4 linked regions of the Homo sapiens genome follow. The protein of the gene in region 3 interacts with the protein of the main gene of each other region in a pairwise test. Each region holds a gene or a part of one and is shown on either strand. Other genes may lie near its edges.

What was found.
Region 1: the proteins of FAM90A1 (region 3) and TRIM23 interact in binary tests that used the Homo sapiens proteins (3 or more experiments, as listed by UniProt).
Region 2: the proteins of FAM90A1 (region 3) and FLOT1 interact in binary tests that used the Homo sapiens proteins (3 or more experiments, as listed by UniProt).
Region 4: the proteins of FAM90A1 (region 3) and HMBOX1 interact in binary tests that used the Homo sapiens proteins (3 or more experiments, as listed by UniProt).

What each region holds. Positions count from the first base shown.
Region 1 is NC_000005.10:65,605,360-65,614,352, forward strand, and holds part of TRIM23 (E3 ubiquitin-protein ligase TRIM23), read right to left. Parts: intron 8,861-8,993; coding exon 8,739-8,860; intron 8,497-8,738; exon of another isoform or gene 8,368-8,496; intron 6,523-8,367; coding exon 6,244-6,522; intron 5,685-6,243; coding exon 5,502-5,684; intron 4,100-5,501; coding exon 3,884-4,099; intron 1-3,883.
Region 2 is NC_000006.12:30,727,209-30,734,680, forward strand, and holds the end of FLOT1 (flotillin-1), read right to left. Parts: intron 3,893-7,472; coding exon 3,711-3,892; intron 3,520-3,710; coding exon 3,474-3,519; intron 3,358-3,473; coding exon 3,220-3,357; intron 2,979-3,219; coding exon 2,814-2,978; intron 938-2,813; coding exon 908-937; 3' UTR 501-907; downstream 1-500. UniProt on the Homo sapiens protein: May act as a scaffolding protein within caveolar membranes, functionally participating in formation of caveolae or caveolae-like vesicles.
Region 3 is NC_000012.12:8,218,767-8,224,618, forward strand, and holds the end of FAM90A1 (protein FAM90A1), read right to left. Parts: intron 5,450-5,852; coding exon 5,250-5,449; intron 4,792-5,249; coding exon 4,683-4,791; intron 4,019-4,682; coding exon 3,056-4,018; 3' UTR 2,494-3,055; downstream 1-2,493.
Region 4 is NC_000008.11:28,961,978-28,970,970, reverse strand, and holds part of HMBOX1 (homeobox-containing protein 1), read right to left. Parts: intron 7,161-8,993; 5' UTR 7,104-7,160; coding exon 7,081-7,103; intron 929-7,080; coding exon 452-928; intron 1-451. UniProt on the Homo sapiens protein: Binds directly to 5'-TTAGGG-3' repeats in telomeric DNA. Associates with the telomerase complex at sites of active telomere processing and positively regulates telomere elongation.

The sequences.
Region 1 (8,993 bases), on a different chromosome or scaffold from region 3:
ATGATTTCATTTAATTACCAAAACAACCAAAATTAAGATATACATTAGAAGTCAAGATAGTGGTTTATCATGGTGGGAAAGGCAGGTAGTGGCCAGAAGTGAGTATGAGGGAACTACTGGGGTACTGACAATGTTCTGGTACTTGATCTGAGTGCTAGTTACACATTAATGATCAGTCTGAAAATTCAGCCAACTGAATACTTATGCATACATTTCTATATCTATGTTCTATGTCTATAAAAAGTTTAAAAATTAATTTCAGATATACATGTATTCGTTAAAAAAAATAAAGAATACAGGTCCACTCCTCAAAGTCAAGAACTTTCCAGTTTCTTGAATATTATTCCAGACTATCTATACATATACCAACATAGTCTTTATATGAAAGAGATCTCCCAATAATATGCAAGCTCCATGAGAACGGTAGTATTATCTGTTTTTGCTCACTGTTAGATACTCATGTTAGTTGACAGCAATTCCACTGTTTCAGTTGTTCAGGACAAACGCTGAAGTCATTATTGCTTTCTCTTTCCCGCATGCCCTACGTACAATCTGTTAACAAATCCTTTTGAACATCCAGAATCTGGGCACTTCTAATCCCCATTATCCAAGCCACTATTACCTCTCACCTGGAATTCTACAACTGCTGCTTAACTGTTGAATTCCTTCCTTCCATTTTTGCCTTCTTTCAATCTATTTTAGACACATAGGCCAGAAAAATCCTTTTAACATATAAGATTAAGTCACTCTTCTACTCAAAACTCTACAATGGTCCTATCCCAATCAGTAAAAGTTGAAGTCCACCCAAGGATGGTGGCTCACACCTGTAGTCCCAGCACTTTGGGAGGCCAAGGCAGATGGATCACTCGAGCCCAGGAGTTTTAGACCAGTCTGGGCAACATGGCGAAACTCTGTCTCTACGAAAAATACAAAAAAAGTAGCTGGATGTGGTGGCTTGCCCCTGTAGTCCAGGCTACTCAGGAGGCTGAAGCAGGAGGAACACTTGAGCCCAGGAGGCAGAAGGTATAGTGAGACGAGACTGTATCACTGCACTCTAGCTAGCCTGGGAGCAAGACCCTGTCCCCAACCCACTCCTCCCGCCCCCGGCCAAAAAAAAAAAAAAAACAATTGAAGTCCTTATAATGCCTCACAGGGCCTTCCTTACATATAATTCTCTATTAACCTCTGATTTCAGCTCCTATTACTCTGTCCTTCGCTTATTCTACTCCAGTCAAGAGGCCTATTTTCCTGTTCCTCAAACATACCAGGCATGCTGCCCTAGGGTTTTTGCTATAACATTTCCTCAACTACAATGTTCTTCTCCCAGTTACGGCCTGAACGAATTCCTTCAACTTTTTACTTGAATCTTTGCTCAAATCTCACCTTCCCTCAATAATGCTTACCCTGACTACTCTACTTATTAATGCAATCTGCTGTACAAACATAAACATGTAGTTGCAGAATTCTTTTTTGATTAGCTCTCAGAACTTTCTAACATATAGTATAATTAACTTACTTAGATATGGTTATGGTTTATTGCCTGTCTTCTTGCTAGAATGCTAATTTCACAAGATTATGGCTTTTTGCTTATTGTGTTCACTGATATATTTTAAATACATGGCATATGTTAGCTACTCAATACATATTTGCTAAATGAATAAATATTCAGCATCCAGTATCATGCCAAGAACTTTAGATGATGCATAATTTGTTTAGAGTGGATGGATGATTAAATTATGTTCTCAGAAGTGAAGATCAATTTGTGATGTTCCATCCATTCCTCTGTTCAATTTTCTCTGTAGTGGGAACTTTAAAGAACATTGGTTAGTATTCTGTAGTTATAAAATAGAACAAAACTAATAGGTCCATATGAAAAATGAATCCAAGACCTTGATTTTTTTGCATTAACATAGATAATACTGTATCATTAAAAATTACCAGTTGATATGGTTTGGCTCCGTGTCCTCACCCAAATCTCATCTCGAATTGTAATCCCCACATGTCAAGGGAGGGACATGATTGGATTATTGGGGCAGTTTCCCTCATGCTGTTCTCATGATAGTGATTAATCATGACATCTGATGGTTTTAAAGTGTGGCACCTCTCCTTTGCTCTCTCTTTCTCTCCTGCCGTCCTGTAAACAAGGTGCTTGCTTCCCCTTCGCCTTCCCCCATGATTGTCTAACTTTCCTGAAGCCTCCCCAGCCATGCAAACCTGTAAATTAAGCCCCTTTCCTTTATAAATTACCCAGTCTCAGGTAGTATCTGTAAAGCAGTGTGAAAATGGACTAATATACCAGTCATTTTGGCACAACACTTCAGAAACTCTAAAATACTTAAATATTTCAGTAACTATGAACAAACTTTTTCATAAAATAAATATGAAAATACTTTTAAGTGTTCAAGTAAATATGATTTAGGACATGACTCCACTCTGATTTTGCTATGTAGCTTCATTATCCGCCATGAGTTAAACATGTATTTATTAAGCTCTTTCTATCTAGATGCAAAGAATTTAGTGACACAAAGATGAACAAGATGCATCAAAGATGAACAAGGTCAGCATCTAAAACACATAGGCATATTGTGTCATTCAAGGTCAAATCGGAAGACACAAATCACACCATTACTTGAATAGAAAGAACTTAAAATAAAAACTGTTAACTAGGTGTAGTTATTAACTAGGTAGCTAAAAGGTTAAAAGGAACTCTGAGGTATTAAGGAGGTAGCAATTGTATGAAATAACATAGCTACCACTTCCAGTGCTAAAGGAATAAAAGGAAGAAGTTAGAATTATTAAAACTTAGAAACTTGCAGGAGTGGCTCATGGAGCTGAAACTCAAACCTCCGAGAAGGGTGGTCTCCTCACATGAGTAACTATGCCCCCTCTTGACAGTACCTAACATGGGCCCAGCTGGCAACACAATTATGAGGTCTGTAGAGTTCTAGCCCTAGTATCACAAAATAGAGGATAGAAGAGTAGGTTTGGAGCTGAAAATCAACTTAATAAATAGCATACATATCAACTGTTACAATTCAGTGTGGTAAGGACTAAATGATAACCCAAGACTGATGAGGCTATAGACTGGCCACTCTCATGTAAGTGTAATCACATATTTAAGAGAAAAAGCTCTACAATGGTACAAGGCTTAGCCTACAATGATTTGAAATCAACACAATTATTAGCAATATATCAGTGAAGATAACACAGACTGCAGCTTTTCTGAAATTCCTAGGGCAATAGTTATTCTTATACCTCACACTTATGAAAACAGATCCAAAACACAAATGGGTAAAGCTGACATTTGTGTTAGAATAACTGAATCTCATTTATTTAAAAAAGTAAGTCATCTGCAAACTGGGTAACAAATTTCTTATGGTATCTCAACCATCACAAAACATACGTTTGCTCTAACAGTGAAGAACCACTGAATTATAGCAGACGTAGGCAGTACATGGTAGAGAGGCACTCAAAAAAAGACCAACAAATAGAAAGCTTCAAAGAAAGGCAAATATTTAAGCTGGACCTTGAAGGAGAAGGAAGATTTCCACTATTAGAAAAGAGAGATATATGCACTCCAAGCAGAAAAAAAAAAAAAACTACATATATGCTTGGCAAAGAAGAGTAAAAGGATTTGGCATAACTGAAGAATGGCAAGAAGTTAGAAGGCCTCAAGAACCCATGGCTTATGGTGGGAAAGGCACGTGAACGACACTGATAATTCCATACTAGTGAAATAATTCAAGGTTGCAGACCATTTCCTAAGCACAAAGTTACTGCATACAGCAGACACAAAATATTAATAAAACACACTAATGTATACCTCTGGTAATTATCTACTTAAACTTACAACTAAGTCCCTAACCACATTTAAACTACCTACCTGCTGCAAAGTCTTTTCACAGTGGAGGCAGGCTGCAGAAACCTCTGACAACAAAATAGTCATATCTTCTTGTTGCTGCCTGAGCCAAATCAATTTTTCACGAACATGAGCATCAACAACACTTAGAGCCATTTCTTCTTGACGACACAGAGTTTCATGTAGATCATAAAAATAAGCTCGAATACATGACCGGGCATTCTCTGCAGTCCCTGGTACCTAAGAAAATGAAAATAAATTTTAAGCAACTGTAATGTTAATAAAGATTTTACCTGTGAAATATTTAAAATTTCAGCCTAGGCAACATGGCAAAACTCTGTCTCTACAAAAAATGGAAAAAATTAGCCAGCCGTGGTGGCATGTGCCTGTAGTCCCAGCTACTCAGGAGGCTGAGGCGGGAGGATTGATTGAGCCCCAGAAGTCAAGGCTGCAGTGAGTGGTGATCACAACACTGCATGCCAGCCTGGGTGACCGAGCGAGACATTGTTTAAATACCATCTATATTAAATTCCAAAATATAAATCTCCATGCTAGATCTTTCCCCTAATGCACAGACATTGGAAATTCAACTGTTTATAAATGACATCTCAAGCAAAATGGAATGCCTAATCTCCAGTCTCCCCTATTCCCAAACCTAATTGCCTCTGTCTTGGTAAATGGCAACTCCATCCTTCAGGATGTTGAAGCAAAAACAACCGGAGTCATCATTATCAGCTCTCTTTCATAGCCCACTAGTCCCTCAGCAAATTCTGCTGACTTCAAAATACACCCAAAATCTGATCATGCCTCATCACCTCTAAGTTACCTATCCAATCAATATTAACAATTAATCACTAAGACCTATCTATTCTACTTATTTAAAATCTCAAATCCATTGACTTGTGTCCACTCTCACTACCCTAGTGTATTATAGGCCATAAACATCTCTAGTATTTTAACTAGAAAACTTTAACAACATCCTAATAGGTCTGCCTGCTTCCAATTTTGTTGCTCCTCCAATTCATTTTCTACATTTAAAACAACCTTTCTTGAGGAAAATCTGATTATATCATTCCTAAGTCAATTCTTCAATGGCTCATCACTGTCCTTAAACTAAGTTCTGAACTCTTTAACATGGCTGACAAGATCCTGCATGATTTGGCTTTGAACTCTCCATATCCTCTTTTCTTGTCATGTCCCATTCAATACTTAAAGCTCTAACTACAGTGAGCTTCTTTAAGTCTCTACAATATGTACAATCCTCACTTACAAACATTTTAACATATTGTTCCCTTCTTGGGACAACTCATTCCCCGTTCTGCTCTTTTCCCTGACTGAAATTCTTCAAATCTCAGTTTAAACACCATTTCTTCTATAAGGACTTCTCTGACCTCCATAAATCATTGTCCCTGTTTTGTGATGCCAAAGCACCCTGTACTTCTCCTCCATAAAATAGTTACCATATTTCAAACTCTCTCTTTTCCATGATGAATGAGTTCCTGAAAGACAGGGACTTTTAAAAAACTTTCTAATGATTGGTGCAATACTGGCAAATTGTAATTGCCCATTAATTACTTAGTAGAAGGTGAAAATATGAAAAATAAAAAAGAATGAGAAAGTGAAGAAGAAAAAAAATCCATACATGTTCTGTGTGAGCCATTCCAATTCCATCTTCCACGATTTGTTCTCCTCCTTCAATGTGCTGCACAATTCCAACTAATTTTCTGGAATAATCTGAGATTTCCTCTGTGAAGGTCCGTATGCAGTGAGCCATATCTAAAATTGATGCTCGGATCTGATTAGCTTCTGGTTCCAATACTGAATGCTATAAAATGTACCATAATTAGAGAAAAGAACTCATAGTATTGACTAATAATATAAAAAACTATTTAAATCCCTATTAATACAAAAAAGCATCAGCCACAAGTGACTTTTATGACACAGAAAAATACTAATTTACTTTCACTCCTTTATAAGAAAACTGTACTGCAAAGAAGTAATTTAAAATTTGGAAGTCCGTTTATTGCTAAACAAAAAACCAAGAGACTATCTCTAAAATCATATCCTAAGTAAGAGCTAACAGACATAAATATTGTCAAAACAATCTGGTGCATTATGAAAACATGCAAGCAAACAGAATGTTTGTTTCCTGCTCGAAAGCTATTTTTTTGTGAAGAATCATGATGCCTCTTTGAAGTTTTTTTTTTTTTATAACATTCAGAAATTAAATCTCTCATTTATTTTCATGCTACCAAACCCAATCACTCATCACTTAACTCTTCTTCAATCCCTACTTTCAGAATAAAGAACCAGGTCAGTGAAAACGAATACTGAGCTGGTAAAGTAGCTACAGTGATCCAACTGATTAATAATTAAATTCATACCTTGTGACCCTGGTGTTTTCCATATTCTTTGCAGACACAGCACATGAGTGGGCTAGTTTGACAACCTTCTTCCAAGCAAACAAACTCAATGGCATGCACCTGGTGCTGAGAGCACATAGTTTTCTCATGAGGTTTATCAGCTAGAGGAACTCGCCTGTGCTTTGCTAATGTCTTTGTAGAATGAGTAACTTGAGAACACTCAGAGCACAAATGAGTTGCACACACAGTGCAATATACAGAGGCAAGGTGAGCTTCATCTTCATCACAACGAATGATGCTCTGATAAACAAAAAATTAATGCCTTAAAATTGAACCCAATCAGTATAACATGACGAATTTTTAAATATAGAATCCATAATCCTTTTTGCTTAACTGAACAATATTTACATATGAAAATATATTGGTCATTAAGAACAAAGGTCATTCAATACTCATCTGAGAAGCATTCATTTCTAGGGGTAAGAAGCTATTTCCAAGATTAACTGGCCAATATATGTTATGAATTTGAAGCCAAAAATAGAACTATTCTCATAGATTCATATTCGGTGCAAAGATCTCTTCCACCAAATCCCCTCACTTTACACAAAAGAAACTAAACCATAGAGAAGTCAAAAGTCTTTCTGTAAAACTACAAAAATCTGATATTAAATACATCCCCATAGCTTTAAATATTAGTTGTCATGATGATGTATAGGAAGGACAGAAGCACAAATGCTATTTAGAAAATGTAGGAGTATGCATCAGAATTAGCTGTAAGCTTTTAAAAACATAGCTGTCTGGAAGAGAAATTCTTATTTCAACAGGTTGTGGATGAACCCTAGACTTGTATATATTTTTCTAATTATACGCCATGTTATTTTAATAGCTCCACAGGTGAGTCTATTGCACAATCACGGCAGAAAACCACTGATTTAAGCAAATAAAAAAAAAAATAGGCCAGGCTCAGTGGCTAACATCTGTAATCCCAGCACTTTAAGAAGGCTGAGGCAGGTGATCACTTGAGGCCAGGAGTAAGAGACCAGCCTGGCCAACATGGGGAAAGTCCATCTCTACTAAACATCCAAAAATTAGTCAGGTGTGGTGGTACATGCCTCTAATACCAGCTACTCAGGTAGCTGAGGCACGAGAATCACTTGAAGCCAGGAAGTGGAGGCTGCAGGGAACTGAGATCACGCCACTGCACTCCAGCAAGGGTGACAGAGTGAGACTCTGTCTTAAAAAATAACAATAAACAAATAAATAAAACCTATATGTAAGCATGTAAATATTATTTCTAGTTTTCAGGAATTACAAAAAATAACTAATTATGAAATAATTACTTTTATTTCAAGTAGATAAAAAATTACATGTCAGATAATCAAGAATGTTTTGAACACTTTTACTCAATATTAAAAGGCCATAATTGGAAGGGGAGAAATTTAGTATAAATTTTTTCAAAAATAAAAATGTTTAAATACATCAATGGTGTCATTCTTTATCACATTAAATAAAAAATGAATCCAAAGTGGAAGAGTTTTGTTTGCAATTATGAGAAATAAACACATGTACCATAAAAATTCAGGTCTTCTGTTTCCCAGACCTGACAAATAAATAAATTATAAACTATAATGTCAACATTAGCTAACAGTAATGTCTTTTGAAATAAAGATTAAAGATTTAGCACAGAAAGAACTGCATAACTTTTAGAAAACAGAGTGTTGCAGTTTGAAATTCATTTCACTGATTCACTTTAGTATAAAGAAATCATCATCTAATGAAAGAGAAGTGAAAGCAATCCGACATTTTTTTTCCTTCATACAAAATATGTGGTTTGCAAGTTGATCACCAAAATCATTAACTGATATTTACTCCAAATATATTTTTACCCATAACAGCCTACGAAAGCCATGTCCTATAGTACATATGTGCAGCTATGCAAACACATAAGTGCTAAAAATATACTTTTACATTATTAAAATCCAGTGTTCATGGATTCTGATATTTACTAGACATCTACCTGTATGGATAAAGACAGTACATCTATACAAAGTTTAACCTTTTCTTGAAGCTATAACAGTAACAATTCCCTCAGAAGTTACTGCTATCTTTAAGGCATTTTCCCCTCTGTATTAAATGGCCTCTTACATCGAGTTTTTCTTTCTCTCATTGAGTTTTACTGTTGACTACTTTTGCATCCTCTTCTCTACTGTTGCTTACATATCTTTCTTACTATTCCATAATCTTCTTCCTCTTTTCACTTTATTCTTGGTAGAACTGAATTATGATAAGGAAAAAAAAGTTCACACATAAAGCATAGTTTAGGCATAGGATTTTCAAATAATTCTAGTTTTTTCTCTTGGGAATAGTGTTGGCCTTCAGAACTGTAATGTAATGAAAAGTTGTGTTTCTAGAAATTTACCTGCTGAAATAAATGAAGTAATATTGTGCTAATAATGGCATCTATTAAAAGAAAAATTCATGCTCGTAACAAATATTTCACCAAGTATGATCAATACCTCTCCAGATATCCCAATGGATTCTTCTGCAGCTCCATACTGACCAATAGGCCCATTCTGCAGTCGTTCCAAAAGCTCCAATAAAGCAAAATTTTTTTTCAATCCCCAGACACCTGAATCACCTAGAATAAATATAAAAACAAAAACTAAATCTAACAAAATGGACTATTAATCATTTTACCCATACCTCAAAAGTAATTTCTAATATAGTTCAGTAGTTAATGTCTAAATTTTTAAAATTCAAATTTTCCCCAT
Region 2 (7,472 bases), on a different chromosome or scaffold from region 3:
AAGCTACATTCTAGCATTCATTTTCTTTCTAATAGAGCCAGGATCTTGCTTTGTCACCCAGGCTGGAATGCAGTGGTGTGATCATGGCTCACTACAGCCTTAGACTCCTGAGCTCAAGTGATCCTCCCACCTTAGCCTCCCAAGTAGCTAGGACTATAGGCAAGAGTCACCATACCTGAGTCTAGCATTCATTTTTTTTCTCTTTTTTTTTGAAACAGTCTCACTCTGTCACCTAGGCTAGAGTGCAGTGGTGCGATCTTGGCTCACTGCAACCTCTGCTTCCCAGGTTCAAGTAATTCTCCTGCCTCAGCCTCCCAAGTAGCTGGGACTACTACTTGGCATGTTTCACCCTGCCTGGCTAATTTTTGTATTTTTGGTAGAGACAAGGTTTCGTCATGTTGGCCAGGCTGGTCTTGAACTCCTGACCTCAGATGATCTGCCTGCCTTGGCCTCCCAAAGTGCTGGGATTACAGGCATGAGCCACTGTGCCGGGCCAAGCATTAATTTCCAGTTGCTTCTGTTTTATTAGTACTTACTTACAGCAATTTATTTGGGTAGCAAAGTTGAAAACCTCCAGCCCATCCCTCAGTCTTGGTCAGGAAAATATTCTAGACAACAGGCTCAAACAGTCTGATTTAATTAGGAAGTTAAATAAGTTGAGGTGGGGTGGAGTGGGATCATCAGAAGGCTGACATGGGACCGCTGGAGTTGGCAATCATAGCAGTGTGAGGTTGGCAAGGGGAGCAACCCCCTTCAAGACAAGGCACAAACTATTTGGCAAGGAGAGATGAGGGGTGGGACCTCACTGTCAATGGACATGCTCAGGGAGGCCAGTGGGTTACATGCAACAGGAGGATCATTCAGGCAACTTCAGCTATGAGGCTGGGCATCTGTGAGGGCTGAAGGCTCAGGCTGTTCTCAAAGGCTTGTGATTCACCTGGCAAAAAGACAACAGTAGATGACACTTGGGAACATTCGGGAGGCTGAGGCCCCTACTCTCCCGGGCCCCAGTTTAGACGAATGGGCTATAGGCAGAACACACACGGCCAGGGTTCTTTCTGGTGCCCTACCACCTGTTTCCCCAAACAAAGACATCAGGACCCACATACAATAAATCACTGAAGAGAGGAGAGGGGGCAGAGCCTTGTTTGCACACTCTCCTTAGCTCTGAATATTCTACTGCAGGCCTCCAGGAGGCTCCAAGGAACCCAGCTTGAAGGTCATTGGTATGATCCAGTGCTTTTATTTACATACGCTTTTTTTTTTTCTTTTTTTTTTTGAGACGGAATCTCACTCTATCACCCAGGCTAGAATGCAGTGGTGCGATCTTGGCTTACTGCAGCCTCCGCCTCCTGAGTTCAAGTGATTCTCCTGCCTCAGCCTCCCGAGTAGCTGGGATTACAGGTATGCGCCACCATACCCAGCTAATTTTTGTATTTTTGGTAGAGATGGGGTATCACCATGTTGGCCAGGGTGATCTCAAACTTCTGACCTCAGCTGATCGTCCACCCTGGCCTCCCAAAGTTCTGGGATTACAAGTGTGAGCCACAGCACCCAGCCCGAATATGCATTTCTTTCTCTTTTTTTTTTTGAGACAGAGTCTTGCTCTGTTGCCTAGGATGGAGTGCAGTGGTGCTATCTCGGCTCACTGCAAGCTCTGCCTCCCAGGTTCACACCATTCTCCTGCCTCAGCCTCCCCAGCAGCTGGGACTACAGGCACACACCGCCACGCCCGGCTGTTTTGTATTTTTAGTAGAGACGGGGTTTCACTGTGTTAGCCAGGATGGTCTCAATCTCCTGACCTCGTGATCCGCCCGCCTCAGCCTCCCAAAGTGCTGGGATTACAGGCATGAGCTACCGCGCCTGGAATTTTTTTTTTTTTTTGAGATAGAGTCTTATTCTGTCACCCAGGCTGGAGTGCAGTGGTGTGATCTCAGCTCACTGCAACCTTCGGCTCCTGGGTTCCAGCAATTCTCCTGCCTCAGCTTCCCGAGTAGCTGAGATTACAGGCATGCACCACCAAGCCTGGCTAATTTTTTTTTGTATTTTTAGTAAAGATGGTGTTTCACCATGTTGGCCAGGCTGGTCTCCAACTCCTAACCTCAGGTGATCTGCCTGCCTCAGCCTCCCAAAGTGCTGGGATTACAGGCGTAAGCCACTGCACCTGGCCCCATTTCTTTAACATACACATAATGCTTACTATATACCAGGCACTATTCTAAACACTGCAAATATTTGCTCGAGCCCCTCAACAATTCAACAGGGTAGTTTCTAATTATTAACCCAATTTTAAGATGAGGAAACAGGTATAGAGAGGTTGATTACTTGTCCAAGATTACAGCTAGCAGGCATTGTAGCTAGGATTCGCAACAAAACAGTGGTTCCAGAGCCTGTTTGCTGACTTCTACCATGATCTACAGGTGAATTAACTGGGGCGCTGAGAAAAGCAGTGATATGCCCTAGAATTAATTAACTGTCAATAGGCTGCAACTAGTTCCCTATACTAGTGGGGTGACCACAAGCACAGGTTGCAGAGACAGTCGACCTGGATTTCACTCCAGCTGCACTAGCAGAATGAGTAGGAACATGCTGGATGTTGAGTTTCTGGACTTTGTAAAATCCTATATACCCTAATGGTAGTTTGATTTAAAACAACTCATTTATGTAGAAGCTTAGCACTGTGTCTGGCACACAGAAAGTGATTAATAAACATCAATGACTCCCAGGCCTGGATGCTGGTTAAATGCTAGGCATACTGTGTCACACAACACAGGAACCTAGCAATTCTCCTCAGCTCCAACCTGAGACCTCACCTGGGAGATGCTCACGCCTGTGAGTCTTTCCACACTCTCTGGCAGGCGAGTTAGAATGTCCAGTACTTCCCCAGTCACTTTGGCTGCCCCCATGGTCCCACTGCCGCTGGACACCAGTGTGATCTTATTGGCTGAAGTCAAGGGACCACTGATCTCCTCTGCCACCTGGCAGGAGAGAGACACCCACTCAGTGCCCATGATCTGACCACATTCCTCATAAAACAACTTACTCTGGGTTTTAAGGTCCTCGTTCCACTGATCATCCTTCCTCACTTTGGTCACTAATAATTCCCACCCCTAATTTAGAGTCCCCCTAGGCTGTTTCTCCCTAAGCCCCTCACTACACCCCACCCCTTAGTCCCTGGTTCTATTTCCTCCTTTCTTGGTGCCCACATGACCTCCAGACCTGGGGCAGCTTCTCTAGCAGCATGTCCAGCTGAGCAGCCTCTTGGTACAGCTGGAAGGCTTCTGCCTTCTTGGCCATCTGCTCAGCCTCGGCTCGGGCTCGGGCCCCTATGGCAAAGGCCTCAGCTTCCCCACGCATCTGAGGGTTAAGGATGCTTGTGAGATTGACGGAAATCATTAAGAACAAGAAATCCCCGATCAAGCAGCAACCCCCACCCTCTCCACAAGCCAGCATGGAACTGCCTCTTAACTCACCCGCACAGACGCGGCTTCTGCCTCCGCCTGCATAATTAGTTGGGACCTGTGGACAGAAGGGAAGTGGAGGGTGGAGCCCAGCAGCCCTTACTCCCAGGAGAAAGGCCCAGTGCTGCAGAGGCAGACGCTCCTGAAACCTGAAATCCATAGGAGTCCAGGTGGTGAAGGCTTCAGCACTCCATCTTGGGGTGCCTAGGTGGCAAGTGAGCTAGGCAGGGTCAGGGAGGGGACATTTACTTCTCTGCCTCGGCTAGGCGCTCCAGCTTGTAGCGCTCCGCTTCCGCTGGCTTCCGCACCCGGGCCTCCAGCTCCTTCTCCCGCCGGGCGATCTCCTGCTCCTGCACTGCCACCTGCTGGGCCCGCTCCACCACCTGCACCTGCACCCGCTGCTCCTCAATCTGCTGCTTAGTCTTGGCCACCTGGGTAGGAGGGTGAAGTCAGGTTCACGCTCTGAGTCAGAGGTGAAGAGCAAGTGCCCGGGAACCAGAGCTCCAGAGTGGGATATAAAAATAGGAGCCGGTGGCCGGGCGCGGTGGCTCACGCCTGTAATCCTAGCGCTTTGGGAGGCCAAGGAGGGTGGATTGCCTGAGTTCAGGAGCTCGAGACCAGCCTGGCCAACATGGTGAAACCCTGTCTCTACTAAAATACAAAAAATTAGCCAGGTGTGGTGGCGAATGCCTGTAGTCCCAGCCACCCGGGAGGCTGAGGCAGGAGAATTGCTTGAACCTGGGAGGCGAAGGTTGCAGTGAGCTGGGATCACGCCACTGCACTCCACCCTGGGCAACAGAGTAAGACTCCATCTCCAAAAAAAAAAAAAAAAAAAAAGGAGCAGGTGCATGAAGGTGGGTTCCCTCCTGTCTGCTTGGCCAGTCCAGTGGAGTCCAGTGTTTCTCTGATGAGCCCCCGTTTAATCTATTTTTCCCACGTGTGCCCCCTTCTAGAGTATAAATACCTTGAGGGCACTGAGCACATGTTGGCTTTCTGCTATCTCCAGTCTTGCTCAAATCCCCCCACTGTTGCTGCGATAACCTTAGTGCTAGCCTAGGCTACTGCAATAGCTGACTTATTTTTTGTGGGGGTGGGGACAGGTGATCTTTTTTGTCTTTTGCACATGGTGCAGATTTAACAGAAAAAAAAGTGAACCACGAGGCTTCTTCCTCATTCTCCAAACCACCTGGGTCCCTTTCCCAGAGAAACCACCAAGACCAGCTTCTTGTGTATCCTTCCAGGGATACTCTGAACATCTACAAGAATGTGTGTATTCATAGAATTCCTCTTATTTAGGCAGATTTCTTTCTTTTTTTTTGAGGCAGTTTCGCTCTATTGCCCAGGCTGGAGTGCAGTGGCACGATCAGCTCAGTGCAACCTTCACCTCCCAGGTTCAAGCTAATCTCTTGCCTCAGCCTCTCAAGTAGCTGGGACTACAGGCATGTGCTACCATGTCTGGCTAATTTTTGTATTTTTTTTAGTAGAGACGGGGTTTCACCATGTTGGCCAGGCTGGTCTCAAACTCCTGATCTCAAGTGATCCATCCGCCTCAGTTTCCCAAAGTGCTGGGATTACAGGCATGAGCCATCGCACCCAGCCTAGATTTCATCTTCTTATTCCTTGCAGTGTGAGGGAATCAGAAGGCTCTTATCAAGATGCTAGTGAGGAGAGGTGCCAGGCAAGGAACACATTTTTTTTTTCTTTTTGAGACATCATCTTACTCTGTCACCCAGGTTCAATGGCGTAATCATGGCTCACTGCAGCCTTGACCTGCCTGGGCTCAGATGATCCTCCCGCCTCCCCCTCTAGAGTAGCTGGGACTACAGGTGTGAACCAGCACACCCGGCTATTTTTTGTACTTTTTGTAGAGACAGGGTTTTCTATGTTGCCCAGGCTGATCTCAAACTCCTGGGCTCACGTGATCCACCTGCCTCGGCTTCCCAAAGTGTTGGGGTTACAGGCATGTGCCATCACACCCAGCCAGAACACATGCCTTCGTTGTCCCATTGCTCAGGCTCAGCCATGCACCATCATCATTGTAGGTCTCATCAATACATGTGATGCTTCCCCTGCCTCCTACCTTCCCCCGGGCCCATCTGTTCACTCCAGAGAGAAGCATAGCTCTGGAGACGGCACTCTGTACTGTCTTTCACCCTAAATTTTCAAACCCGTTCCAAACTGGCCTCGTTGCCCTCTACACCGGTGTGCAGGATCACCTCTCTCCTGTGTCCCTTAGGCAACCATTTGTCTGTTTCTTTTTCCTTCCTGTCTATGCCCACCTTTTGGTGAAACTCAACCTCCAGAAGCTTCCTCAGAAAGAATATAAAGACAATATTTTTTCTGAGGTCTTGCTTTCTCTGAGATTTTTATTCTACCTTTTTTTGAGATGGAATTTCGCTCTTGGCACCCAGGCTGGAGTGCAGTGACGCAGTCTTGGCTCACTGCAATCTCCATCTCCCAGGTTCAAGCAATTCTCCTGCCTCAGCCTCCCATGTATCTGGGATTATAGGTGCCTGCCACCACGCTCAGCTAATTTTTGTGTTTTTAATAGAGATGGGGTTCCACCACATTGGCCAGGCTGGTCTTGAACTCCTTATCTCAGGTGATCCACCTGCTTCGGCTTCCCAAAGTGCTGGGATTACAGGCGTTAGCCACTGCACCCGGCCTCTACCCTTCTATTTTAATACCAGTTAGGCTGAAAGCAGGCTGCTATGTTGGGATTAACTTTCCATCAGAATTCTGAAGGCATTCCTCCATGGTTTTCTAGCTTTTTAAGAAATCTGGGCTTGGGCCAGTCATGGTGGCTCATGCCTGTCATCCCAGCACTTTGGGAGGCTGAGGTGGGCAGATCACCTGAGGTCAGGAGTTCATGACCAGCCTGGTCAACGTGGTGAAACCCCGTCTCTACTAAAAATACAAAAATTAGCCAGCAATGGTGGCACATACCTGTAGTCCCAGCTACTTGGGAAGCTGAGGTAGGAGAATCGCTTGAACCCAGGAGGCAGAGGTTGCAGTAGCTGAGATCACGCCATTGCACTCCAGCCTGGGTGACAAGAGCAAAAATCCATCTCAAAAAAAAAAAAAAAGAAAAGAAAGCTGGGCTTGATGCAGTGGCTCATGCCTATAATCCCAGCACTTTGGGAGGCTAAGGTGGGAGGATAACTTGAACCCAGGAGTTCAAGACCAGCCTGTGCAATATGGCAAGATCTCACCTCTAGAAAAAAATTTAAAAATTAGCTGGGCGTGGTGGTGTGCCCCTGTGGTCCCAACTACTGGGGAGGCTGAGGTGGGAGAATCACTTGAGCCTGGGAGGTTGAGGTTACAGTGAGCCTTGTTTATGCCACTGTATTGGACAACAGAGCAAGACCCTGTCTCTGAAAAAAAAAAAAAAAAAAAAAAAAAAGGAATCTGAAGTCATTTTGAAGCCTGCCTCTTTGAGATCTCTCTCTCTCTAGAAGCTTTCATATTTTTTGTCCTCAGCATTCTTAAGTTTCACAGTGTTATGTTTCAATGTATATATTTTTCATTCATTGCATTGGGCACTTAGTAGACCATTTCAATCTAAAACCTCATTTTTATATAATTTTTCTCAGAATGTTTCTGCTCCCAATAAGTCATGCCACATTTGCATGTGCTTGACTTTTTTTTTTTTTTTTGGAGATGGAGTCTCGCTCTGTCACCCAGGCTGGAGTGCAGTGGCATGATCTCATCTCACTGCAACCTCTGCCTCCCAGGTTCAAGTGATTCTCCTGCCTCAGCCTCCCGAGTAGCTGGGACTGCAGGCGCGTACCACCACGCCTGGCTAATTTTTTGTATTTTTATAGAGTTGGGGTTTCACCGTGTTAGCCAGGATGGTCTCGATCTCCTGACCTCGTGAGCCACCCACCTTGGCCTCCCAAAGTGCTGGGATTACAGGCATGAGCCAACACCCCTGGCCCTGCTTGACTCTTATTAGTCCCTTTCCCTTACTTCCCTGCTTCTTTCTGTGGGGTTTTATTTTTCCCCTTTGTC
Region 3 (5,852 bases):
AACATCAAAAGTTTGCAAATACAAGCCGACGGAAAATAAATACATGAATTCTACCACAGTGAATTGGACCGCACTGGGAAACACAGATGAAGAAAGTCAATACCGCTTTGTCCTTCAGTGCCTGGCTCCTTTTTCAGCTCGTCTTGCTACTCTAGGCATTATGCCTGAAAAGTCTCCCAGGTGCCTGTGAGGCTCTAATTCCCTGGGTCCCATTGCCATGTCTCTGGATTTGCGAAGATCCACCGGACCTTCTGTGGAACTCCCGTGTCGGTGAACTTTTGTGCCACGTCCCCTAATTCTGCCCATGGTCATCTGCAGCTGCACGAGTTAGGGTCGGTGTTCCTTGGACGGGAAGAGACAGGCAGGAGTCGGAATGCTGAACCAGCACACTGGGGCGTTTTCTCATGTAGCCCAAGTGACCCAAGGTCTTCTTGAGCTTTGGAACCAGTCGCGTCCCACTTGACACAGCACCCGACTCCCAGTTTCTCAATCGTGTTGGCCCTCCGGCGATCTCCCGTTGGATGAATTGCACAGGCTGAAACTCGAGTCCCCTTTGATTTGCGCTTCATTAATTATTCATGATTCAGGTTGGAAGGCCTGCTGACGACCCCCTGTGGCCGTTCTCTGAGCTTTCCTGTCACATCGTTTCCTTCCACGCTCTTTGGTTCCTTGTGGTCCTGCTCCTTCTGCTGTCAGAGGAGCAGAGAGTTGATCTTATTGATTCTGGATACGGATACTTTCTAGGTGATCTGGATAATCAGGATAACGACCCTCAACAGCGGCGGAAAGGGAGCAGCCATTTGGTGTGTCTCAGAAAATCGCGCTCAGTTCCGAGGCCTCCTAGATGTGGAATCCTGCTCAGAGTTGTTCCCAGGTCAGAGAATGGAGAGAGCCTGGGCATGATGGGATATCCCTGCCTAGATCTTTCAGTGAGTCTCTACCTCAGCTACTCTTAGGATCAGGGGGAGAACCATGGAAAGGCCCGGTGTCAGACATCCGGAAAGAAGATGGGATGAATGTTTTACCTCTGAAGTACATCCCAAATCTGGGAGTTAACTTCAGCTTTGCTGGGCTCTATTTGGCCAGTGAAACTCTGCCTGGTTCATTCGCACATCCGGAAGCCACTTCACGGGGGGCCGTCGCAACTGGAACCACACACTTGGCATCGGCGGTTGAGCCAAATGGGGACTCGTGGTGCAAGCAACGCTCCCCACGTGTTAGCGTGCGTGAGATTCAGTTGGCGGAATTTTACTAGGTGTGTGTTGGTAGAGTGGGGCTGAGGTTTTCTTGCTCCTGTGGATGTATACGAAGTCAAAGGTCCTGCCCAGCCCTGCGGTCCCCTCAGTCAACTCTGTTTCAGAGACATAACGATTTGGATTGAGAACAAGTCAAGAAATTTTCAAGCCCTTGGATGTAGGGAAAAGAAAGAGAGATCAGACTGTCACTGTGTCTATGTAGAAAGGGAAGACATGAGACTCCATTTTGAAAAAGACCTGTACTTTAAACAATTGCTTTGCTGAGATGTTGTTCATTTGTAGCTTTGCCCCAGCCACTTTGCCCCAGCCGCTTTGACCCAACTTGGAGCTCACAAAAACCTGTGTTGTATAAAATCAAGGTTTAAGGGATCTAGGGCCGTGCAGGACGTGCCTTGTTAACCACATGTTTACAAGCAGTATACTTGGTAAAAGACATTGCCATTCTCTAGTCTCAATAAACCAGGGGCACAATGCACCGTGGAAAGCCGCAGGGACCTCTGCCCTTGAAAGCAGGGTATTGTCCAAGGTTTCTCCCCATGTGATAGTCTGAAATATGGCCTCATGGGATGAGAAAGACCTGACTGTCCCCCAGCCTGACACCCGTAAAGGGTCTGTGCTGAGGTGGATTAGTCAAAGAGGAAAGCCTCTTGCAGTTGAGATGGAGGAAGGCCACTGTCTCCTGCTCGCCCCTGGGAACTGAATGTCTCGGTGTAAAACCCGATCGTACATTTATTCAACTCTGAGCTAGGAGAAAAGCTGCCCTGTGGCGGGAGGCGAGACATGTTGGCAGTAGTGCTGCCTTGTTATTCTTTACTCCACTGAGATATTTGGGTGGAGAGAAACATAAATCTGGCCTACGTGCACGTCCAGGCATAGTACCTTCCCTTGAACTTAATTATGATATAGATTCTTTTGCTCACATGTTTTTTTTGTTGACCTTCTCCTTCTTATCACCCTGCTCTCCTACTACATTCCTTTTTGCTGAAGTAATGAAAATCATAATAAAAAAAACTGAGGGAACTCAGAGGCCGGTGCCGGTGCAGGTCCTTGGTGTGCTGAGTGCCGGTCCCCTGGACCCAGTGTTGTTTCCCTATACTTTGTCTCTGTGTCTTATTTCTTTTCTCCGTCTCTCATCCCACCCGACTAGAAACACCCACAGGTGTGGAGGGGCAGGCCACCCCTTCACTTGGAAAATCAGTTAAACACAAACACGGAATGAAAGTCAAAAGACAATATGTCATCTTTTTGAGAATTTTATTCACTTCAAAACAAATTCAACACACCTATTTACAAAGGGATTCCAGAGCCCACTTTTCGAGGCTGAGGAAAGACCCCGAGAGCGCTTTGCACAGCGCGCTTCCCAGCGTCCGAAACACTGCTCTCAGGGCGGGGCACAGCGGAAGGGCTGCACCTCTCAGGGTTCCCTAACTTTTCCCTTATTCAGTCGTCTAGAGAGCAAATACACAGTAATTCCCCCGTTTCCTATTGACGTCCCAGCGGAAGTCTGACTCCTGCGCGTCATGCAGTTTCTGAGGCAACGAATCACTGGCACGGAAGCTTTTCCTGGCGCGTTTCCAGAGAACCATGCGAACTACAATGTCCCTCACCAGAATTCAACGTGGCAGAGTCCCTGCATCTGCTCCCTGCCTGGCCTGGGCTCCCACATCCACAGAAGGGCCACAGCCGGGGAGCTTCGGAGTCACCGCACAGAGTCTGCTCTCTGCTCTGTGCTCCTCAGTCCCACAGTCCCCTCCAAGTCACGGGAGCTGGAGGCCAAGGAGCCCCTGCCACCTGCAGTCTCACTCCAGGTCAGAATCGCTGTCCTCTGAGGAGGAGGGAACCTGAAGGTCCTCATAGAGGACGCTTGGTGGGACACGAACACAGGGACCCTCAGACTTCTCTGAGACATGAGGGCTCTGAGCGAGGAAGGCTCCCGGCTTCTCAGGAGAGTGAAATGAGGGGGCCGTCAGCAGGCTGGAGCTCCAGCGTCCGTTTTCCAGTCTCCGAAAGAGCACTCTGAGAGGCTGGGCCCCATCATGGCTGGCCGCTGGGTGATGGGACATGGTGCAGGCCTGGGCAGTAGGCAGGCAAGGTCTGCTGTGCGGAGGCTGCCGGTCGCCGCTAAGCACCTGGGCGGGTGTCCTCGTGCCTGTCTGGGGTGACGTACGTGGTCCAAGTTCGGTTGCGGCTGGCGGAGGTTGGAGATTCTCCGGGGCCCCCAGCTCACCTCCCTGGATGGCGCTTTCGGGGATCTGGAAGGGACCCAGTCTCGGTTTCTTGGGGAAGTTCAGGCAAGCCTGAATCGGAGCCGGGGCAGATCTCTTGGCTCCTGGCCCGAAGCTGAGATTGGAGCCTAGGCCCAAGCTGTGTGTGGCGGCTGGTGGGCAGGGCTGTGAGGTCACCGCAGGACGTTTGTCTTGTGCCTGGGGGCTGACGGCCTGGAGCAGGCCGTGGGTTTTGGAGGCAGCCTGGGGAACTTCTCGACAGCCACCCGCAGGGCTGCTGTGTGTCGGCTTCACCACGAGGAGAGGCTCGGGGCCCTGGTGCCTGACTGCAGTCTGAGGGATGTCGGCCGCAGCCCCTGTCTGTCTTTCCTTTGGTCCAAGACTTGAGGAGGAGCTCAGACTGGCTTTTCTGAGGGGAGACAGTGAAGCTAAGACGGAGCCCCTGTCAGACATTTCGGTAGCTGAGCGATCAGAGAGGACAGGGTCCACACGCGGCCTCTTACTGGTTGTGTGGACCGGCATTGGCCCGCTTGCAACCTGAAAGAGAGGAAACAACACAGGTTAGAAGTTCCTCAGCATGGAGCCAACATGAAAATCAACCACATCCAAAGACAAGGTGCACACGCCATGAAATTCTTAGTACACTATCGACAGGCGGTCCTTGGAAGTAGGGACAGACCCTCCACCTGAGTGCTGATCAGGACAAGACACATGAAAGATGCGCTCTCGAGCTATGTGTAGCTGATCTAAGCACACCATTGTTCAAAAGATTGCGTCTTAGGCATTAGCTGGATCAAAGCGCCTCCACTCAGCCTTCCATGAAGTGGAACCGACTGATGCCCTTCCGAAGGCAGGTTGGTGGCTCAAGGGTACTCAGGACGTCTTCTCTGAACATATGCATGTTCCTGGGTTTAGCCTTCTCCACGTTTGGGGCCTCTGAGGGACTAATTTCCTCATGCCGCTAGGAACGTGTTGTTGGCAGGCTTGCCATAATTGGACAGAAAGAAAGCAACAGGAAATACGGCATCTTCAGATGCCTTCGCCTGGAATCAAATTGACCTGGAAGGATCGTGGAGTGTCTGACCCCAAGAAGGCAAGAAAGAGGGGTTCCCCGATTCCCTCCCGCAGACGGGAAGCTGAAAGGAAATCAACCAGGGTGACCTAGAGGAGAAAAAGACCAGGGGCCCAGGGTGACCCTCACCCTCAGATAATCAGAAGATTCCGTGGATCCTTTTTGATTTGGCAGCGGCTTCTCTGGAGGTTTCCTGGAAAATATGTGGAGGAGAGCCTTCCTCTGCGGGTCTTGTGGCCTGCAGAACAGAAAAAGGTCAGGCCGTCCTCCCTGGTTTTCCCCAGGAGACGGGGAGAACCCTGTCTGGGGCCCAGTCCCATTCCGTGTTTTGTGATACAGAAATGGACATCTGGTGCCCTTTCCGCCTCTGCACCTTCCCTCACGTGCCAACCTTCCCATCCTCCAGGTGGCCCTCTAGGCTTCCCAACTAAGGACTGTGATTTGGATTCCATCACTTTTCCCCCTGTCGTGGGGAACCTGCACGAAGCGCCCCCGCCCCTCCCCGTCCCTGAATCTCCCAGAGCCAAAGGAGCTCTTGGGTGTGGAACTCCGGAAGACACAGAGCTCCGGTCTGTTTCTCTGCAGCGTTCCTTCCCTGGCCCGGAGACGGAAAGGCACACGGTGTGCAGGTGCAGAGACACCATGTCCTTAGGAGGCAGTACCCTAAGAGTGGTGAAAACCACTCCCACTGCTCACCTTGGTCTCTCTTCCTTCTCTCCCTTATCCTTGTTCAAGGGCCCAGGGTTCGCTTCAACCTGGGGCTTCCATGGTTTCAGGTTTTCCTTCCCTTCCTTTTCCCCAAAGTTCGGTGGAACCAGGGCTGCCTTCCAGCACTTCATGGGGCACCTGGTACTTCTGGCCGTGTGGCCAAAGGCCTCACAGTTTTTGCACTTGAGCTGTGGGTGGAAAGGAAGTGATGTCAGTGAGTGAGCTGAAGCCACAGGCACCGATCCCACGTCAACATTGAGACGGATTGTGAATTCAGAGCTGAATAAGGATTCCAAAGAGGGGACACCGGCATGGGGGCCGTTAAGTGCTGGGAGAGTTCGGATACGATGTTCCCTCCCAAAGCCCATGTGACGGAGGAACTCTAAAAGGCAGGACTCAAGGTCCTAAGGGGCACGATGGTGAACCCGATGTCAACAACACAGCCAAACGTGGCTACACAGGACTCTAAGTAGAAAGGGAGGTTGCCCCCAAGAGTCTCTCAAGGGGCCTATCGGGCCGGGGAGGAGGTCCCAAGCCACGCCCACCTTGGATGGGAAAAGCAACCTGGGTGGTGGTGACAGAACTCTTTGG
Region 4 (8,993 bases), on a different chromosome or scaffold from region 3:
AAAATTAGAACCTATATAATAGGTACCCCAAATTATTTTCTTGATTGGAATGTTGAACAGAAAAATTAAGAGTGTACATATTCTGATCAAGATAAAATTATCCCTCAGAAAAAGTACTTACAACAGATTTTTAAGGATTAGAATGTGTCTGTTAGTCAGAAATTAGCTATTAGAGTCATAGAGAAGATTAGTGTTTGATAAACAGAATGGAAAAGGCTTGTCAAGCAGCAAAGAGAAAGGGCTGAAGTAAAGAAGAGAAAATTTAAATTAAAAACATAAAGCTTGAACTTTCTTTCTTTCATCTCCAAAGGTGGGAGGAGGAAGTTACAGTTCTTATAGCTAGAGGAAGTTACAGTTCTTATAGCTAAGTAGCTGAAACGCAGCATACTACTTAAAAACAATCTAAGAATACAGACATTTTTAGGGACTCTGAATAAGCAAAGTCACTAACCTCATTAATTCTTCCACTTTATCATCTACATCTAGGTCCTCTTCTGAGGCTTCAAAACTGTATGACCTCTGACCCATGCTGTTTGCATGGTAGCGAGTTGGTGACATCTTTCCATTGGATGTAGATAATCGCTCATTATTCTCCCTCCCATTTTGATTGGTAGTGCAAGGCTGTGGGGAAGTATCATAACTGTTGCTAGGTGACGGGGACATTCCCGAATGCTGCGTCTGTGTGGAAGCTGTAGCTGTAGAGGAAGATGCTGGGACATTGTTAGTACTATTCCCATATGAACTTCCTCCATAGCTGGACCTTCTTCCAAACTTGTCACTATGCTCTTGATCAAGACGGTCCAAAGTTTCCAAGGCATGGAGAATTTCATGTTTAGTCATTCCAGTACGCCGAAGTCGCTGAAGCAGATCTATCTGCTCTATGGTAAATCTGGGTTCATCTGTATAATGAGACATGGTTTCCAGCAAACTAAAAAAAAAGAGATAAAAAGAAGTCTCTTTATTGACAGTATCTACCAAAGCACATATTATACAGAATGCTCAGAAGATGCAATATTTCTACATAAGCTTCTGTATTGAAAATGAAGGTATGTCCCATGCTAGAATGATTGTGCCATGGCAAATGGATTGGTACAGATACTAAATGTATTAGTAGGTGAACATAGGTGTAACATAAAACCTAATTTCATATGGCATACAATTTACATTTTCCTCAATTTTGGTAAATATCAGAACCAAAATTTTAGTTATGTAAATAATACCAGAACAATAGATTAGGTACATGGAGTGCAATAAGCCCAGGCTACGTGATAACTCAGAAGTGTTTTGCCCATCTCAAGTGTATTACTCTACATTAGAGTATTAATGGAAAATTACTGAAAAAAATAGTTTGTATTATATTATTTACCAAATATTAGCTAAACAGACCTAGGAATTCTCTACAACCTCATTTAGTGAGAACAAATGATTTGCTAAGCTAAGTCCAAGCAAATGCTAATAACCAGCAAAAATACTTAAGTGGAAAACAGAGGTACATTAAAAAAAAAAATAAGCACCATTTCATTCACTACTTAGCAATTTCCTAAGTTTTCCATCTCTGGTAATGCATTCTCTCTTAATAGCTACCCTGAGAAATAGATCTTTCATGGTTGTAGCCAAACAATGCTATTCATTTTTCTTAGGAAATTACTTTTACATGTTTCCTTTAACTAGCACAAGATACTACAGCACATCAGAAAATGTTTTCTTAGGGTGAGTAACAATATTAAGGGAGTAGTCAAATACTATAAAAATTCTCACTGCTTGAATCCCTTTGTTGTTGTTGTTGTTGTTGTTTTGGATACAGAGTTTTGCTCTTGTCAACCAGGCTGGAGTGCAGTGGCGCAGTCTTGGCTCACTGCAACCTCCACCTCCTGGGTGCAAGCGATTCTCCTGCCTCAACCTCCTGAGTAGCTGGGATTACAGGCACCTGCCACCAAGCCTGGCTACTTTTATATTTTTAGTAGAGATGGGGTTTCAACATGTTGGCCAGGCTGATCTCAAACTCCTGACCTCAGGTGATTCGCCCGCCTCGGCCTCCCAAAGTGCTGGGATTACAGGTGTGAGCCACCATGCTCGGCCTTGAATTCCTTTCTTATAAGACCTGAGTTTTCCATTCAAGATTTTTTAAAGTTGTAATCTCTTCTATTTTGATATTTATTGTTCTAGTGCCAAATATAATGCATGGCATGCAGTAGGCTCTCAATAAGTGTTTGCAGATGGAAACAGATGTCAAGAAATTTCTTCATCTTTCTCAAACAAACATCTGCTCTGGGCCAGTGTCCTATAGCTATTGAAGGTCTCACTGTTTCTTTGTCCTTCTACATGAAAACTTTATTAACAGTCACTTCTAGGCAGGAACTGGGTACGAATTTCACATAACATAATCTCATCCAATTCTCACAGCAACTCCCCATGGTAGATGTTCTTTATTCATTTCATTTTATGTTGATGGATTGATTGTTGAGGAAACTAAAGCTCAGTGTAGTTTTGTACTTCACAAAAAATCTGAGTAAACAGTAGGAAAAAGATTTAAGCCTAGATCTTATTGACTCCAAAAGCACACATCATTCTCCTTTACAATACATTGCAGGACTTAACTGGAAACATATGATTTGGCACACAGGCTATTCTACTCCTTTAAGTCTCATTTAAAGCCATTTAGATAAAACTATTCTAATTACTGATGAACCTAGGGGTCCTAGTAATAGTTTTCTACATTTAAAATCCTTGCTCCATCTAGAATTTTTATTGACTTAACAAGTATAAAAAATTGGGGCTTTATTTCATCCCAAATGGACAGCTAGATGTCGTATGTTTTTACTGAATATCTGTCTTCTCCTCCGATGTGAAATGCTGCCTTTATCATATACACAATTTCCATATGAATCTGCATTACCTTTGGATAGTCTATTCCATTTCACTGATTGTTTTATCTTTCAAATCCTTTTAAAAATAAGTAGGGAAAAATCTAGAACTGTAGATGAAATCTTCCTGGTTTTTAAAACAAGCTCATAAAAATAAAACAAAACCAAACACACACATTCTGTGGACCTAAACATGTTGCAGGCCATTTGTGCCCATGGGCCACAGTATCTGCTCTACACCTACAAATGTTAGGGTCTGATTTCTTCCAATACTCACTTGTAACAAGTTAGCCATGATTTTAAAAAGACCTATTTTCATGATTATTATATTCTTTCTTGATGGCCTAAGTTCCCCCACAATATTTTGTAATGAAAAAAATTAAACATAAACATTATTATTTTCCCTTGAAAATGAAGTAGACCTGTTTGTTGCTATTTTCAGTCTTCATGTTATCAAAGTATTTCATAAAGTGATCTTACTTTAGATGACTTCAATAACTGTTTTATTATATGGACAAAAATCCCCAATCATAGTATTTTCCTATAGTATTCATATCAGAGCAGTTAGTTATCTATATACAGTTCTTCAAACCATTCCTTGTATGGAGCAGCACTCTGTATTAGCATAAAGCAAAAGTAAATTGTATGAATTTCACTTATTACTGAAAAGTATCCATCCTAACACTTGAATTAGAATTGTCAAAACTAAAGATTTCACAGCATATGAAACAATCTAATATTTTGTGTCATTTCAGATTCATTGACTATTAGAACCACTTTTATTCCAAGTCATAAAAGGAGAAACAATAGGCCACCTATTTACTTTGTCTGCTTAGAACACCTCATTCTTTCCAAGCACATGTTCTTGGGCTATCACTCGTAATACCCCACCTTCTGGCCAGTGGGGTGAGCACAGAAGAAAGCCAAACCTTGCTCTCCCCATAATTTTCTAGTCAGACGAGGGGAAAGATGAACAGTCACCATAACTGTGTTCAGTTGCAGGAAGATATTAGTCTGGTAAATTCCTCATTATATGGAAGCAGCTAGTTCATGGGAGGAAGAAGCAGACATACCAAGAAACGTGGAACAGAGCGATGGAGAAAGCTCTGCAGCACTCACATCCCTTGTTCCAATAATCCCTAAGCCCCTGATATATCCCTGCTCTTCTTGCTGTTTTGTTTCATCAGAGAATACATTTCCCTTTATGTATCACCTTGTTCAAATTAGATGTCTGTGCCCTGCACTGAGAGTTTCCTAATGCAAATATAACCTAAAGCAAAATGATCCACAATTGCTAGAATGATCATTCATATGATCACTACAAAGCAAAGTGATTAAGAGCATAACAAACAGGATCAAAGCATGCATGTGACACTGAAGATACAATATTTTACTGAGAAAACGCTGAGTCTAGAAGCTCTCCTGGATATTGAGAATAATGTTCCAATGTGTATTAATATAAACAAAGGCATATACTCCGGCATTTCACAATTTTATTTCTCATAATTTACCTAGTTTAAGCATATAATCACGAATTTATGGCAGTAAATGACCTACAAAGGTCATCTAAGTCCATGATACCAGCAATTCTTTTATAACAGAAAAAGATAACATGTAAGAATTGAATTAATTTTCTTATGCACAAGGATTGTTCAGAGGATAAGGAACATCTTTCACTTTAAATTACTAATCTGAATGCAGACTCAGGCCAACAATAATTGAAAATGATGTGAGAAGAATTTCACCACTGTAATAACAGACAGTGTTTAAGGCATAAAAGAACAATTAAATTCAGGAATTATGGCTCAGTTCATAAACTGATATTCTAAGAAAATATCATACCATAAGACCATAATAATAACTTTTCACAATACATTTTATCCTGACTTGAATATGTACCTAAACCCTTCTTGGATAAGGCATGAGGTCTAGAATATACTTTCATAAGCTAAATTCTACAAACATGTAGAGCAAAGAAGATTAAAGCATTCACAAATAATTAATCTTGAAATCACAGAGGTAAAAAGGACATTACTATCTTACTTGTAAAGCACCAACAGTAAAATTTTATTGGATAACAGCTTTTTCTTCAGCTCAATTCTGCTGTCTTTATTTTTATTATCTAGAATGACTAGGCAAAATAGGTTAGTTTTGTTTTGCATACATGATATTTACTGCATGCTAATTTAACACACTCTAGGGTCAATCACAATATTTTTATCAGAGAGAGAACTCTCCATCCTCTCAGGAATGTCACCTCATGTCAAACTGCATATGTGAGTTACTGTCACAACTACTGGACTTCAAAATACATATACACTCAAGAGCTTAACAGACACTTTGGGAGCTTAGGCTGTGGCAGGGCTACTCTCTGTCAGCAGCTTCTCCAAAACCAGAGAGCTCAGGCTGCAACAGGCCTCAAAGCTTTTATACCTTGCAGGCCAGCATTTTCTAGCACTGAGGGGCCTTCCTTGTGGTCTCAGATCTCAGCTATGGTGGTCAAGCCAGCCTCTCCCAAGAACTGCTCATGTAAAGGTACACCTCCACCTTTAGCCTTCACTTGAACACAGAGGCCTCCTTTCATCATAATTGAGCAAAGACACTTTAATAGCTTTGGAACACATTCATAATGTGGTTAATGTACCTCATCTATTGAGTGTATTCCCTGTGAAGTCTGTCTATGTTACTCTCCCCATCTTTAAGTACTGTGAACCCAAGAAAAAATTCTCTTTGTATGGCAATAAACACTGTGATTCATGAAATCATACTTTGATCATCTTATTTCTACCATATGTGACAAAAATCCAAGTACAAACATGCACATTTATAAAGGGAGATATAAGTTAGGTGTGGAATGAGAAAACTGGAGATCACTTAGACAAAAATCATTCATTTAAGTAACATTTATTGAATGCCTACTATGTAACAGATCCTGTGCAAGGCACAGAGGACACAACAAGGAACAAATCAGGCAAAAATTCATGGCTTCATGATGCTTACATTCATTTCAGTAACTATTAGACATCTTACTATTTTCAATAGCCATTAGACGTCTTAACTCTCCTGAATGCTTAGCCATCTATCTCAGAAACTTCTAGGCTTTGAGCAGTTAAAAATAATAAGTAATTTTATATTCAATTTAAAATTAATGTCAAAATTCAAAGTTGAAAATAGAAATGGTAACAGAGAAGGCTGATAGATTGAAAATAGCCATTAGCAAATAAATTTTTTTAAAAAGTGGGGAGGGAAACTAAGGCCCAAAGAGGTGAAGTGCCTTCCCAAGGATATAGCTACTTAGCAGAAAGTCGGGCTACAGTTCACATCTTCTAGGTCTGTTCCAGAAACTTTTCACTATATCATAGAATCTACTGGGGTGGGGGTGGGGGAACTATAATGAAAAGCCTAAATAATAAGGAAAATCTCTCTTAATGTTTACTTACTGTATTATAGAACTGTCAACCAAAACGGAAGGAATTTAAGCAAAGTGGAGACTCCATCAAATTTTAGAAAATACTTATGCTAAAGGCACTCTGCATTCGACTCTAAAGATGCACTTAATGAGCTAATAGATACTCTGTCTTCTCTAATATCTGAAATTCCCGGAATACTTTTATTCAAAGGCCTATTTAATATGAACTGGTGGTTATAGTTCATATCCTAGCACAAAAACACTCTCAACACAATACCACTATCTCAATTTGTATTTTCTGCCTGACTCCAAAGAAAGGCTAGCACATCAGCTAATAGGCTTAACTACATCATCATGCCCCCAGCAGGTAAAGGAAAATGGTTAAGGTGCTAGGAGTTTTTACACAAAAGGCAACATGAAGATGTATGCTTCCAGTAGTCTGCTTGTCACAAGGAATCTAATATTAGCTCTCTTGAACTGTTAGTCATCTATCTTGGATGCTTCTAAGCTTTAAGCAGTTAAAAATAATAATTAATTTTATATTCAATTTAAAATTAATGTTAAAATTCAAAGTTGAAAACAGAAATGGTAAGAGAAGGCTGATAGATTTAAAAATTCATTTCTCACCACATGATCATGACACTTATTCACCTTAATGTCAAATAGGTATAACATTTGATTCATTTTCTAAAAAAGCTTTTCAACTCTACAAACGTCTGTTGTCAAATCTGGATCATAATCATAGTGACATCTTAACTTTACTAAAATGATTGTGAAGATAAAAATCAAAAAGGACTTGATACTTACACCACTGGAAAGGAACTAAGCATACTTTACATGAGGCGGATCAATATCCTTTCCAGAGATGATCTGCGTTATCTACCATTCTGTAGAACAAAGATAGAAAATTGAGAAACATTTATGTTAATCAAGTGCTGAATAAAAATTTTAATTATGTAACTGATGGACAGCAAGAGTTAACACTAGCTAATCATGTTAAATATTATATCTTCTGATTTGCATTCTACTGCTTTATTCACCATACACTTTGATCCCTTTCAATTCAGACACAGATCTTAACAAAAAATGGTATCTACTATTCATTGTTTAGAAGCTAAAGATCATGAAGACAACTTATTAGCTGGTTAAAACCATAGTTATAGAGGCACTGATTTCCATTAACTCTAAGATTATAAATTAGACAAAAGTTAAAAATGTTGATGTCAAAAACTCTCACATTGAAATACATATTCAGTACTGAATTATATTAAGCATGGCCAAAGTGTCCAACAATGACTAATGATATATGCAAAATGTACAAGGTAAAGTTAGAAACCTTTCATATTTGTATATTCTAAACTGTAGCACTAATGAAGTTCCTGTTGTAGATAATTTTCTTGTTGACTTAAAAACAGGCCAGGCGTGGTGGCTCATGCCTGTAATCCCAGCACTTTAGGAGGCTGAGGCGGGTGGATCACCTGAAGTCAGGAGTTCGAGACCAGCCTGACCAACATGGCGAAACCCCAACTGTACTAAAAATACAAAATTAGCCGGGGGTGGTGGCACATGCCTGTAATCCCAGCTACTTGGGAAACTGAGGCAGAAGAATCACTTGAACCTGGGAGGCGGCGGTTGCAGTGAACCGAGATCGCACCATCACACTCTAGCCTGGGCCACAAACACATTTTTCACTACCTGCTCAAATTCAGTTAAAATATATGAGGCACCTGCTTGCCCTGGCATAGACACAAGAACTAAATATGAGTAAGATATGGTCCCAACAGTAGAGGAGCTTAGGAGTTCATTAAATGGCGGGAGGTGGGGAGAATAGAGACTAGGGACAAAAATTATAGACACACCCCTCTCAAATAAAAAATATAATACAAAAAAAAAGACCAAAAATACAACGTTTATATGAGTAACAATCCAGAAACTAATTCAGGTTAGAGAGAACTAGGAAGATTTCTTAGAGTGAAATCTGGCTGTTATTTGAGGATTAGAATAAGACTTCCACAACATCAAGGTGTAGAGGGAGGTGAGAATCAGTGGAGGAAAGATTCCAGGAAGAGGGAACAGTGAAAAGAAATTATGAGATTTATTTAGGGAATTAGTAGGCTTGTGTTGCTGGCCTTTAACACAGTATGTGTGAGGAGTAGATGATCTAGAAGGGGATCCTGACCTTTATTCTGTAATCATGAGAACCATGCAGCACGTTTACATGTAGCATGTTTAGCATGTAGCATGCACCATGAATACAGAAAAAAGGTCAGGCTCCCCTTCTAGAGGGGATCCTTTGACAACTTCCATGCTAGGAAGTTATCATCAAAGACCCTCATTTCACAGACAGGAAAACAGATTAAGTCACTGATACAAATTTATGTAACCATAAGACACTGAATTATGTCAGTTATATTTCAGACATAAATGGGCTTAAAATATTCTACAAAAAAAGGAATGTTCTAAAAACAGAAGACCAAGCAAACAAGATGTTATGAATTCTCTCAATTTCATAAAGCTCTTCTGGCAGAGGAGACAGATTATTTTTTTCTAATTGACAGATGTTTTCAAGTTATTTTAAAAACAGATCAGGAACTAAATAAAAATGGGTATTAAGATCACATCCACACTGAGTGCAATGGCTCACACCTGTAATCCCAGCTACTTAGGAGGTTGAGGCAGGAGGATTACTTGAGGCCAGGAGTTCAAGGCTAGTTTGGGCA